Homo sapiens: one gene and its partner. Each later gene encodes a partner of the first gene's protein in a complex. Each region holds a gene or a part of one and is shown in the gene's direction. Other genes may lie near its edges.

The links.
Region 2: the proteins of UBE2O (region 1) and NAP1L1 are in contact, whole or in part, in a cryo-EM structure (PDB 7UN6), measured with the Homo sapiens proteins. Residues at the interface, in NP_071349.3 of Homo sapiens: Ser225, Asn226, Val282, Lys283, Pro284, Val285, Lys289, Ser290, Lys291, Phe292, Arg293; in NP_001317160.1 of Homo sapiens: Arg333, Arg337, Thr343, Gly344, Glu345, Ala346, Ile347, Asp349.

The regions. Positions count from the first base shown.
Region 1 is NC_000017.11:76,388,854-76,394,234, reverse strand, and holds the end of UBE2O ((E3-independent) E2 ubiquitin-conjugating enzyme), read left to right. Parts: intron 1-2,121; coding exon 2,122-2,325; intron 2,326-2,421; coding exon 2,422-2,479; intron 2,480-2,621; coding exon 2,622-3,292; 3' UTR 3,293-4,779; downstream 4,780-5,381. UniProt on the Homo sapiens protein: E2/E3 hybrid ubiquitin-protein ligase that displays both E2 and E3 ligase activities and mediates monoubiquitination of target proteins. Negatively regulates TRAF6-mediated NF-kappa-B activation independently of its E2 activity.
Region 2 is NC_000012.12:76,046,644-76,053,827, reverse strand, and holds part of NAP1L1 (nucleosome assembly protein 1-like 1), read left to right. Parts: coding exon 1-58; intron 59-477; coding exon 478-623; intron 624-717; coding exon 718-737; intron 738-3,174; coding exon 3,175-3,297; intron 3,298-4,042; coding exon 4,043-4,072; intron 4,073-4,302; coding exon of another isoform or gene 4,303-4,365; exon of another isoform or gene 4,366-4,577; coding exon 4,578-4,628; exon of another isoform or gene 4,629-5,239; intron 5,240-5,363; coding exon 5,364-5,399; 3' UTR 5,400-7,184. UniProt on the Homo sapiens protein: Histone chaperone that plays a role in the nuclear import of H2A-H2B and nucleosome assembly.

The DNA.
Region 1 (5,381 bases):
AGGAAGGGAGTAAGAAAAGAAAGAGCAGGGATCCTGAGAGCAGCCAAGCGATCCTGAGAGCAGCCAAGCGGGATGCTGTTGAGATGGGCCCGGAGTAGCCACAACCCTGGAACAGGGCTAGGCAGAGTCCTAAGGCCCAGTGCTGCTTGAGATTCTTAATAACGCTTTTGGTTTTTTCTTGGGTTGTAGGAAAATTCCTTTTGAAAATTCTAGCCTGTCTCAGCTCTGCTGAGGGAAGATGGAAACAGTATTTTTTGTTTTGTTCTGTTTTCCCCACATCTCACTCAGGAGAAGAAAAGTAGTGCATTCCCTGGAGGCTCCCAGGGTGGCACCGATAAGAGCATGTGCAGAGGTTCCCTCGCCCCAGCTAGCGCTCTGCCTTCCCTGCTTCTCAGCTCATCACTGACCTCGCCCATTGCCCTGTCAGTTGAGATCCCACACACACGCGTGTGTGCACAGATGCACGCAAATAGATGCACAGATTCCAGATGTCTGTGGAGCGGTGGTCTCCCAACCTCCCCCATGGAGTTCAAACCCTCACTGTCAGCTTCTGGTTGTGAGACCATCCCCCCTTCCCCAGGCCTCACCAGCCTGGAACTGCCTTTCAGCTTGAAACTGCTTGTACTACTTGCCTTGTTGGGGATAAGGGTTGGAGCAGGTGTTTAGAGGAATTGTTTTGTTTTGTTTTTAAAAGACAGGGTTGGCCGGGCGTGGTGGCTCACGCCTGTAATCCCAGCACTTTGGGAGGCCAAGGTGGGCGGATCACAAGGTCAGGAGTTCGAGACCAGCCTGACCAACATGGTGAAACCCCGTCTCTATTAAAATACAAAAAATTAGCCGGGCGTGAGGAGACTGAAGCAGAGAATCGCTTGAACCTGGGAGGCAGAGGTTGCAGTGAGCCAAGATCACACCACTGCACTCCAGCCTGGGGACAGAGCTATACTCCATCTCAAAAAAACACATAAGCCAAAAAATAAAAGACAGGGTCTCACTCTGTCGCCCAGGCTGGAGTGCAGTGGTGTGATCATAGCTCACTGCAGCCTCAGCCTCCTGGAGTCAAGTGATCCTCCCATCTAAGCTTTTTGAGTAGCTGGGACTGTAGGTATGCACCACCATGCCCAGCTAATTTTTTATTTTTTGTAGAGATAGGGTCCCACTATGTTGCCCAGGTTGGTTTTGACCTCCTGGCCTCAAGCAGTCCTCCCACCTTGGCCTCCCAAAAGTGCTGGGATTACAGGTGTGAGCCATCACGTCTGGCTGAGGAATACAATCTTTTTTTTTTTTTGAGATAGCGTCGCACTGTCACCCAGGCTAGAGTTCAATGGCACAATCTCGGCTCACTGCAACCTCCGCCTCCGGGTTGAAGCAATTCTCCCACCTCAGCCTCCCGAGTAGCTGGGACTGCAGGCATGCATCACCACGCCTGGCTAATTTTTGTATTTTTAGTAGAGACGGGGTTTCACCACGTTGGCCAGACTGCTCTTGAACTCCTGACCTTAAGTGATCCACCCGTCTCGGCCTCCCAAAGTGCTGGGATTACAGGCACGAACCACCGCGCCCAGCTGGAATACAGTCTTAAAGTAATGATTTATGAGGAAAAACACCTGATAAGATAAAAACTCACTTCGAGTATTTCTCTTAGCCAGGGTTCAATGATTCCAGGCAAGGGCCAGGCACAGTGACGGCTCAGGGCTGTAAACCCAGCACTTTGGGAGGCCGAGGCAGGCGGATCACTTGAGCCCAGGAGTTCGAGACCAACCTAGGCAACATAGTGAAACCCTGTCTGTACACAAAATAAAAAAATCATCTGGGCACGGTGGCCCACACTGTAGTCCCGGCTACTTGGGAGGCTGCAGTGAGCCATTATTGCACTAGTGTACTCCAGCCTGGGGGACACAGCAAGACCCTGTCTCAAAAAAAAAAGATTCCAGGCTGTTCTGCAGAGAGAGATTTGTCCTTAGCTTCTCCACTGCTGGTGGCATCTGGAGTCCCAGGTGCTGCTCTTCCTGCGTGATCTGCACAGTGTCCTGGGAAAGAGCAGGTGCAGATGCAGATGCCACATGTAGGACACCCCCTTCCACCCCTGCCAACCTTGGCCTCCCTCCCTCCCTCCCTACCTAGGACCTCTTCTCAGCTCTCATCAAGGGCCCCACTCGAACCCCCTACGAGGATGGCCTCTACTTGTTTGACATCCAGCTCCCCAACATCTACCCAGCCGTGCCCCCCCACTTCTGCTACCTCTCCCAATGCAGTGGCCGCCTGAACCCCAACCTGTATGACAATGGGAAGGTGTGTGTCAGCCTCCTGGGCACCTGGATTGGAAAGGTGAGTATAGGGCCAGGCCCCCAGCCAAGAAGGAGGAAGAGCCACTGGTGGATAGGGGCCTGGGGAACAGAATTGATGGTGCCCTGTGTGTTTCAGGGGACAGAGAGGTGGACAAGCAAGTCCAGCCTTCTCCAGGTGCTCATCTCCATCCAAGGTACAGTTGGGCTGAAGCGGGGGTGCGGACAAGGGAGGGCCGGTGGAGGAAAGTGACTCTGATAGTCCCCCTGGCAGGTGGAGGGTAGGCCTGCATTGTGGGCCTCTCTCACCCACTGAGGGAAGGTGTCCCGCCCACACAGGTCTGATCCTGGTAAATGAACCATACTACAACGAAGCCGGCTTCGACAGTGACCGAGGCCTGCAGGAAGGCTATGAAAACAGTCGCTGTTACAATGAGATGGCGCTGATCCGCGTGGTGCAGTCCATGACCCAGCTGGTGCGGCGGCCCCCCGAGGTCTTTGAGCAGGAGATCAGGCAACACTTTAGCACTGGTGGCTGGCGGCTGGTGAACCGTATCGAGTCCTGGCTGGAAACCCATGCCCTGCTGGAGAAGGCCCAGGCACTGCCCAACGGGGTGCCCAAGGCCAGCAGCTCGCCAGAGCCCCCAGCTGTAGCCGAGCTGTCAGACTCCGGCCAACAAGAACCTGAGGATGGAGGGCCAGCCCCAGGAGAGGCCTCCCAGGGCTCAGACTCAGAGGGCGGTGCCCAGGGCCTGGCCTCAGCTAGCAGGGACCACACAGACCAGACTTCGGAGACCGCACCAGACGCATCGGTGCCACCCAGTGTGAAACCAAAGAAGCGGAGAAAGAGCTACCGGAGCTTCTTACCTGAGAAGAGTGGCTACCCTGACATCGGCTTCCCCCTCTTCCCACTTTCCAAGGGTTTCATCAAGAGCATCCGGGGTGTCCTGACGCAGTTCCGGGCTGCCCTGCTAGAGGCAGGCATGCCGGAGTGCACAGAGGACAAGTAGCTGCCAGGCACAGAGGAAAGAGCATCACCGTGGGAGAGGCCAGCCGCCGCCTGCTCACTCCCCCCCGGAATCACCCCTCTTCCCATGCCCCTCTGTCCCCACTGCAAACCCACTGCCCTCTTCTCCCCAAGGTGAGTTTGATGCTGAAGTGCAAGAAGTGTGTTGAGATGCTGCCGTTTCTATTTTGAAGCGAGCTTTCAACAGGCGGGTCCCCTGTGGCAAAGAAAATCGGAACCCTGTTGCCGATTTTCCATTTGTCACCCCAGCAGAATGTCCGGCACTTGCTCCCTTGCTGCCCCTTCTCAGGTCAGAGGCGGGTGTTCCAGGGCCTGCCGCGGGGCTCTCTGGGCCGGTTCCCTGCAGACCCGCAGGAGAGCACATGTGCCTTGCATGAAGTGTGGGTTGCGCCAACAATTCCCCTGGTCCCTTTCAACCTGTTTAGTTCAACTCAAGCCTCCCTGTGTCCCAGACCCTCCTGCTGCCACCACCACCCAGGTCCTCCCTAGTCCTCCAGCGTCAACACTATCCCTTGGGAGTTGTAGCTGCTGTCACTGACTCCCGGCTATACATGGCCTGTCGACCACGTTATAGCCCTCAGGCCTGTTGAACTTGCTCTCTAAGAGAGGTTGGGACCAGGCTAGGTTCCGGGTGACGCCCAGGAGAGGTGGTGGCCTTCACACATGCACATGGAGTTGAGGACCAGGGAGCTGCAGGGAAAGCAACAGCTATAGGTGCCTTGCTCTTCTGTCGGAGGCTGCTGGGGGCAAGAGCAGCTGCACAAGGCCAGGGCAAGTGCTAGGGCCCCTCCCCCATCACATGGTCACACTGGGACAGGCGTGCAGCTCACTGAACTCCAAGCGAGCCAGCCCTCTCTTGGACTAGAAGGCCTACTGTCAGCCCTTCGCTTACAAACTGCAGGCTCAATCCGAAGGGGACGGCCGGCGGGGGCTCTCCTAGTGCCCAGAGACAGGCCCAGAGGTTTACAAGTTTTCTAAGCTTTTGATAATGTGAAGCTCCAGGCCGAGAGGATGCTGTTGAGCACATTGCAGCTATGTAATTTTTGGTGTATGTATGTAATATTTAAGGTTGGAAAAAAAACTCAAAAGCAAAGATATTAACTCTTATTAGAAAAAAAGACAAAAAAAAAGCCAAAGCATGATGCGTCTTGTCAGCCTTAAGTGGGCTCCACACCTGTGCTGTGCTGTGACCGCCCAGCCAGCAGAGCTGCGGGAGGATGGAGCCGGACCACACACCGTGGCATTTGGAACCGAGTCGGTATCTTGTTTGAGAAACACCCGGAGTGACTGGTGGGGCTGTGCTTCCCAGTGCATTGTACATGTGGAGATGTGAATGCCTACTGCTTACGATATCTGTATAAAGTGCTGTGTGATTAAACTTTTTTTTACTTGCATTTTTTTTTTTTTTTTTTTTTGTGTTGGCTCATTAGCAAGACAAGGTGACACCATTAAACCTCCCTCTGCCATTCATCTGGGCTCCGTTGCCTTTGTGTCCCTCACACACACCCTTCCTGGGGAAGGAAAGACCTTGTTTGTTGCCAGGGAAGGCATGTGGCAGTGGGTCCTGGCTTTCCTGGCCAGGTGGGGGCCACTGTGAACAGCACCCCCACCCGCCCACACTGCCCTCTGCCTGCCAGACCTGCTTGCATGCCTTTTGTACTTCTTGTCCTGGAGCAGTCCTCTGGCCTCCTCCTGGCCGGTGGTGTGCCCCTCAGGAGCCAGCTTAGAGCAGCCTCCCAGCAGCTGTAGTCTCCAGAGACCTACAACTGACCAGTTCAGCTCCTTCCAGGTTCTGGGAGAGCCGACGTCATAGCACCTGGCGGTGGACAGGTGCCACAACTCCTGGACGCTAAGCCAAAATGGTTGCCCAGTTTAGACTTGGATGGATCCTTCCCTGCCACATTCTTTCCACTCCTGCCTGGCACTCCTCCACAGGGACAGGTAGGGAAAGGAGACAGCTGAGGGAGGCTGGGAGAACCCTAGAACCCTAGACCATTGTGGTGGATGACAGACTCCTTTTAAAAAGGTAAGATACCAGGTGTGGTGGCTCATGACTGTAATCCCAGCACTTT
Region 2 (7,184 bases), on another chromosome or scaffold:
AACCAGATGATTCTGATCCCTTTTCTTTTGATGGACCAGAAATTATGGGTTGTACAGGGTGAGTTTAATTTTACTACCTTAACAAAATGTTTTTTCTGTTTTTGTTATACTTGATTTGTATACTCGGTTATTTTCAGTTACATATGTACATAGTCTGTCTCTGAACATTTTGGTAATATGTTTTCTGAAAAGTGCTTATCAAGTTTCCTGTAATTCTCCTTGGACCCATGACTGTCTCACATATATTTTTGCAGAGGAATGCTTCTTTAAATTATACTATGTGTTTGTGCTAATTGTAAATGTGTTTATTTTAAATATTTGCTTAGAAATAAAATTTTTCCCTTTATACTGCTATAGAAAACATTTGAAGCAATTCACCCTTCTAAAATTTGAAATCTAAATAGAACATTTACTTCTAAAAGTTTAGCAGTTGAAAGATTGTCAATTGTAATAGATTTTTCTTCTTTGTTTTGCAAGGTGCCAGATAGATTGGAAAAAAGGAAAGAATGTCACTTTGAAAACTATTAAGAAGAAGCAGAAACACAAGGGACGTGGGACAGTTCGTACTGTGACTAAAACAGTTTCCAATGACTCTTTCTTTAACTTTTTTGCCCCTCCTGAAGGTAAATAATGTTTTAGCTTGAGTATTAACGGTTGTTTTATAAAAAGCATTGCTTAGCTTCTTATTCATTGTAATTTCTTTTCTCAATTTTGCAGTTCCTGAGAGTGGAGATCTGGTAAGTTGAATTGTTATATATTTATTGAATTGTTAAGTATATTTGAAATTAAAGCACTGAATTTCAAAAATGGAGAGTGGGATGGTTGTTACATTGAGTTCTGAGGCCTACAATGCATGGGGCAGACTTTTTGGATATGAAAAATAATTCCATTCAAAATTATATCAGTGCTTCTGCTGAGAAACACTGAGATAAAAAGCTTAAGGTTTTCTTTTCTTTTGAAACTTCACATATTGCTGTGAGGGATTTAACTTTTCAAAACTGTTGTCTTCCTTAGTAAAACCAGAATATATTAAGTCACTTATACTGTTACATTCCTAACTACATTATGGTTCAAATTCATTCCTGAATTTGTTACTCCAATGTAAATATGGTTTCATATTGTGACTAAGTATGTTCACATATATGGCATATGGCAAAGAACATGAAATGTTCCTGCCATATAGACTGAACTGAGGAACAACCTTAAAGAAAGTCTATACACACAAGGTAGGGCAGGTATGTTTTGAATTTGGTTTTCTTTTGGGCATGTTTTTGAATTTAAATTAACTGAGATAGTTTAAATAGTTTGTACATATATGGAATTAGAAATTAACCTAAACTGAATACTTTTGAATTGGAATACTCTTGGCTAAGACTTAGAACAAATTTGTAAAAGGCAAAAGTAAGTATTTCTGGCTTGGCTTATAGGACAAAAAAAGAGAACATAAAGCAGTGTGAATTTCAGGTGAGAAAAACTACTTTAAGTATTAAGATAGAGCATCACACTATTTTCATATCAGTGGATGGGTTGGAGTTTGTGTTCAAGTTTGGGGTTTTTTTTTGTTTGTTTGTTTGTTTGTTACTAAATATTGATGATGACAAAACAGTCTAGTTAAGGATAGAAAACCTCCACCTGTGGTTTGAATTCCTCCCCACCCCCTTTTGGATTTTTCTATTTATTAGATTATGTTGTTGACTCAAACATTCATGGAATTCACAGAGGGTGTGCTCATTGTTTAGTATCATAGAACTTGTATCATTGTTTAGTATCATAGAAGTGGGATTATTTTATTTTATTATTATTATTTTTTTTTTGAGATGAAGTATTGCTCTGTCATCCAGGCTGGAGTGCAGTGGTGCGATCTCCACTCACCACAACCTCTGCCTCCCGGGTTCAAGCAATTCTCCTGCCTCAGCCTCCCGAGTAGCTGGGATTACAGGCACGTGCCATTGAACTCGCTAATTTTTGTATTTTTAGTAGAGACGGGGTTTCACCATGTTGGCCAGGCTGGTCTTGAACTCCTGACCTCAGGTAATCTGCCTGCCTTGGCCTCCCAAAGTCCTGGGATTACAGGCATGAGCCAGGCCAAAGTGGGATTATTTTAATTGTGAATAATGTCAGACCCACTTTTGCCCTGTGCTTTTCTATTAAATAGAAATCCTAAGCCAGGTACAGCTTCAGGCACCTGTAGTCCCAGCTGCTCTGGTGGCGGAGGTGGAAGGATCACTTGAGGCCAGCCTGGGCAACATAGCGAGACCCTGTCTCTAAAAAAGAAAAGTGCTAGGGGCACCTGATTTAGTTAGTATATTGTCTTTCTGAACTAGGACTGTCTCATTTGGGATTAGTAGACTTAAAACTGTACAGCTGTTTGGGTACTGTCTTTTAGGAACTATAAAGTGATCCTCTGTGGTTGTTTATTATGTCCTTCTATTTGCTATGTACTTAACAATATTAACAATAACTATATATTAACAATAACCCAAGGGTTTTTTTTTTTATTTTTCTATTTGGTGTTTTCAATAATATTTTAAAAGGAAAATTGCGGACATGTAACAGTTGCTTTTATGTATTTATGTTTAAACCAGCAAAAACTAAGCAGTTCTAATTTTTATTCTTCACAATTTATCTTAGTATGCATACTGGCCTGCTAGCTTATTTTCTTTTTGTTAAAAACTTGGAAAAGTTATTAAGGAAATTTAAAAATGACAAATCATTTGTTAACATGGTGTGAGAAAAATCATGGAAAGTAAAAAGTAAAGTTGAGCATTTCTTCCCTTCATCATATAATTTAAACTGAAGAGTCTGTCTTTTTTTTTTTTTTTTTTCGGTTGCCCAGGCTAGAGTACACTGGTGTGATCACAGCTCATTTCAGCCTCAAGCTGCTGGGCTCCAGCAATCTTCCCACCTCAGCCTCTCAAGTAGCTGAGACTACAGGCGTGTGCCACCCTGCCCAGTTAATTGTTTATTTTTTGTACAAACGCAGGGGGCGTCTCACTATGTTGCTTAGGTTGCTCTTGAACTTCTGGGCTCAAGTGATCCTCCTACTTTGGCCTCCTGAAGTGTTGGGACTACAGTTGTGAGCCATCACACCCAGCCTCTAAGAGTCTTACATGTGCCAAATTAAGTAACACAGTTATTCCTAAATTTTCTGCTTTTGTTTTCCTTTAAAAATAGGATGATGATGCTGAAGCTATCCTTGCTGCAGACTTCGAAATTGGTCACTTTTTACGTGAGCGTATAATCCCAAGATCAGTGTTATATTTTACTGGAGAAGCTATTGAAGATGATGATGATGATGTAAGCGAATTTGAATCCTGCAAAGAAATAATTGGTTGAGGGTATAGTGGTCAGAATTGGTAATAGATTAGTTTAGTTTTTAAGAAGCAGGACATAATATAATTCAAAATTAGGCTAATTACTGATGTTCTGTATATAGCTTTTCTGGGTTTTAAGTATGTCTCCTTAGGATTTTTGGATTCATTTATCTTAGCTTTTAATTTTCTGCTAATAAGATTGTTCTGAGTTTATGAAACTTTTTTATGTTTGGTTAGTGCTATAGATCTATTATGCCCTTGCCTTGACTTCACAGAGCTAGGACTTTCTTTAGTGCACAAGAAAACATTTACTGGGAGGCATAGAATTTCTATTCAAGGTAGTATTGAATGATGGTTAGGTTAAGATTAGGTTGCATATAGATGTTTTGAATATGTTTATTGCTCAACGGCAATTGTTAGAGTAGGCTTTAGGTCCTTTTCGTACAGTGCATTCCACACTTAAGTGTAGGTGAGTAATATTTACAGTAATACTTGTCTGATCATCCACTTTATCCACATGATTGTACTCTGTTCTTTAATTTTATAAATTGGCAGTGAGCAGAGTGATTCTTGCAGCTACTATGTGTTTTAATTTATAATCAGCCCCTTGATAGGAAAGTAGGTTTTCTCTTTTTAGACACTAGTTTATACAGTGATAAATGTTACTGATGCTACTCTGAAATGTGTGTTACATTCACTCAACACTTAACGCTGTTTTTCCTTTTCAGTATGATGAAGAAGGTGAAGAAGCGGATGAGGTAATGTTTACCAAATGAGCAAATAATTCTCTGTGGTTAACACATTGAGAAGCAAATTGAATGACTTATGTATTCCTTTGCTATAATCATTCTGTGATTTGGGATAAAAACATTTTGGAAAACATGATTTTAGAATTCTACAGCCAAACAATGTATGTATAAGGTTTCAATAAATAAATTGCAAAACTCAGCAACATTTTTTTATTTCAAATAATTTTGTTCTGCTGCAGGGTTATCAGCTCTTTGAAGAAGTCAAAAGCTGCAGTAAACTTTTCCAACGTTGGCTGCAGTAACTATTTTCAATAAAAGCTGTCTGGATGTCTCAAGTTGTGTTGGGAAATTTTTCATATTAGAAGCTTTCAAATTAAATTGTATTATCATCAAAGTCTGTAATCATGAAAATCTGTTGATCCGTAGAGTAACTTGTATTAAATTTTCCCTACATTATGAGCCAGTTTACCTACTATGTACATACTTCATGGATGCATTTTGAACTTTAATATAGGAAGGGGAAGAAGAAGGAGATGAGGAAAATGATCCAGACTATGACCCAAAGGTGAGCAAAATTAGTGCTGCTTTCTATTAAATTTAAGATAGCTAAAGTAAGAGTTGGTGTTTTTGAATATCAAGTTTCTCTCCGTTAAAGTCTTTAATAAATAAAGCCTATTGACTGGATAACTTTGTTTTTTCAGTCCCACTGGCATTGTGAACAGTACACATAATTTCAGTGGACGTTTTTCTAAAAAACATTGTTTTTTGTTTGGACTTCGTGCTTTTTATAGTTTCAGGTACAGTGAACCCTAGGATTCTATTTTAATGGGACGATTTGTAACAGTTTTTAAGCATTAGAAAATAAAGGTTTTTAAAAGATCTGGTTGTAGGAGTGTTCGGGAACTGGGGAGCAGTGCAGTTTGTTAGATCCTTCCAACTACTCTTACTCAGTCCCTGAGAGTCCTAGTCTATTATTCCTGAGAATTTGTTATATTAGGATTAGCAAAAACAAAGCTGATTGGTAATATAACTAACATAAATTGCTTGGTAACTTTATTTTTTTAAGATTATGGTTTAGCGTGTGTCACATTTTATGGAGTTAATTCTACAGTGTAAAGTTTGAGCTTGATTTTAGCATTTCAGTGACTTGCTAATAAAATAAATAATTTACCACCATTGTCCTATACCATTTCTTTTGACAACAGTGAGCTACTGTTATAATTAAGGCAGTAATTACTATTGAGAAATTCACTGAAGCAGGTAGAAGAAGATAGATTGACTTGTTGTTTTCCTTTAACAGAAGGATCAAAACCCAGCAGAGTGCAAGCAGCAGTGAAGCAGGATGTATGTGGCCTTGAGGATAACCTGCACTGTAATAGCCTAAACACAACTCTTATTTACTTACAGCCTTATGTTTTTGTATTTTCTTGGTAGACTAGGTAATTTTTTTTTAAAGGACAGGAAACTGATATTTTAAAGACCAATTTGTTCTACCTAGCATTTTAACTAGTTTTTCTGCCAGCTATGTTGAATGCACAAATTCTGTCACGCATGTTCATTCATTGCTACATAATTTGGTTCTTCTGGAATATTTTTATGTAGCTCTTGGAGTACAGCTATGAAAATTAACAACTGTTAAAGGAAATACCTTTTTTTTTTTTTTGTAATTTTTTCCTTGAAGAACCAAAGTATTTTTTCAGCTGGTTGTTGAATAGGGTTAAGTCCGCTTGGATTAGCTGTGCCTTTCATTACTTTGTTACAGAAATGCAGTGACTTATACTAAGACAATTTATTGTTTAAAAAAAAAATTGGCAAGACAACTATATGGTTAAGAATTTCCAGTATGACCACACCCAATAACTGTTATTAGAGTGTTAATGGATTATTGTGTTTTAGGTGACATAGTTAACTGTAAAGTAACCTGACTCAGTATAGTTACTGGTACCACAGTGAGGTGAATAAAACGGGATTTTCAGAAGTTAGCCTGAATTTAACTGTATTTTTAAATTTAACCTCCATTAACTAAGCATCTTTTCTTTGTGGTAGGGTCTACCTTCTGCTTCCCTGGAAAGGATGAATTTACATCATTTGACAAGCCTATTTTCAAGTTATTTGTTGTTTGTTTGCTTGTTTTTGTTTTTGCAGCTAAAATAAAAATTTCAAATACAATTTTAGTTCTTACAAGATAATGTCTTAATTTTGTACCAATTCAGGTAGAAGTAGAGGCCTACCTTGAATTAAGGGTTATACTCAGTTTTTAACACATTGTTGAAGAAAAGGTACCAGCTTTGGAACGAGATGCTATACTAATAAGCAAGTGTAAAAAAAAAAAAAAAAGAGGAAGAAAATCTTAAGTGATTGATGCTGTTTTCTTTTAAAAAAAAAAAAAAAAATTCATTTTCTTTGGGTTAGAGCTAGAGAGAAGGCCCCAAGCTTCTATGGTTTCTTCTAATTCTTATTGCTTAAAGTATGAGTATGTCACTTACCCGTGCTTCTGTTTACTGTGTAATTAAAATGGGTAGTACTGTTTACCTAACTACCTCATGGATGTGTTAAGGCATATTGAGTTAAATCTCATATAATGTTTCTCAATCTTGTTAAAAGCTCAAAATTTTGGGCCTATTTGTAATGCCAGTGTGACACTAAGCATTTTGTTCACACCACGCTTTGATAACTAAACTGGAAAACAAAGGTGTTAAGTACCTCTGTTCTGGATCTGGGCAGTCAGCACTCTTTTTAGATCTTTGTGTGGCTCCTATTTTTATAGAAGTGGAGGGATGCACTATTTCACAAGGTCCAAGATTTGTTTTCAGATATTTTTGATGACTGTATTGTAAATACTACAGGGATAGCACTATAGTATTGTAGTCATGAGACTTAAAGTGGAAATAAGACTATTTTTGACAAAAGATGCCATTAAATTTCAGACTGTAGAGCCACATTTACAATACCTCAGGCTAATTACTGTTAATTTTGGGGTTGAACTTTTTTTTGACAGTGAGGGTGGATTATTGGATTGTCATTAGAGGAAGGTCTAGATTTCCTGCTCTTAATAAAATTACATTGAATTGATTTTTAGAGGTAATGAAAACTTCCTTTCTGAGAAGTTAGTGTTAAGGTC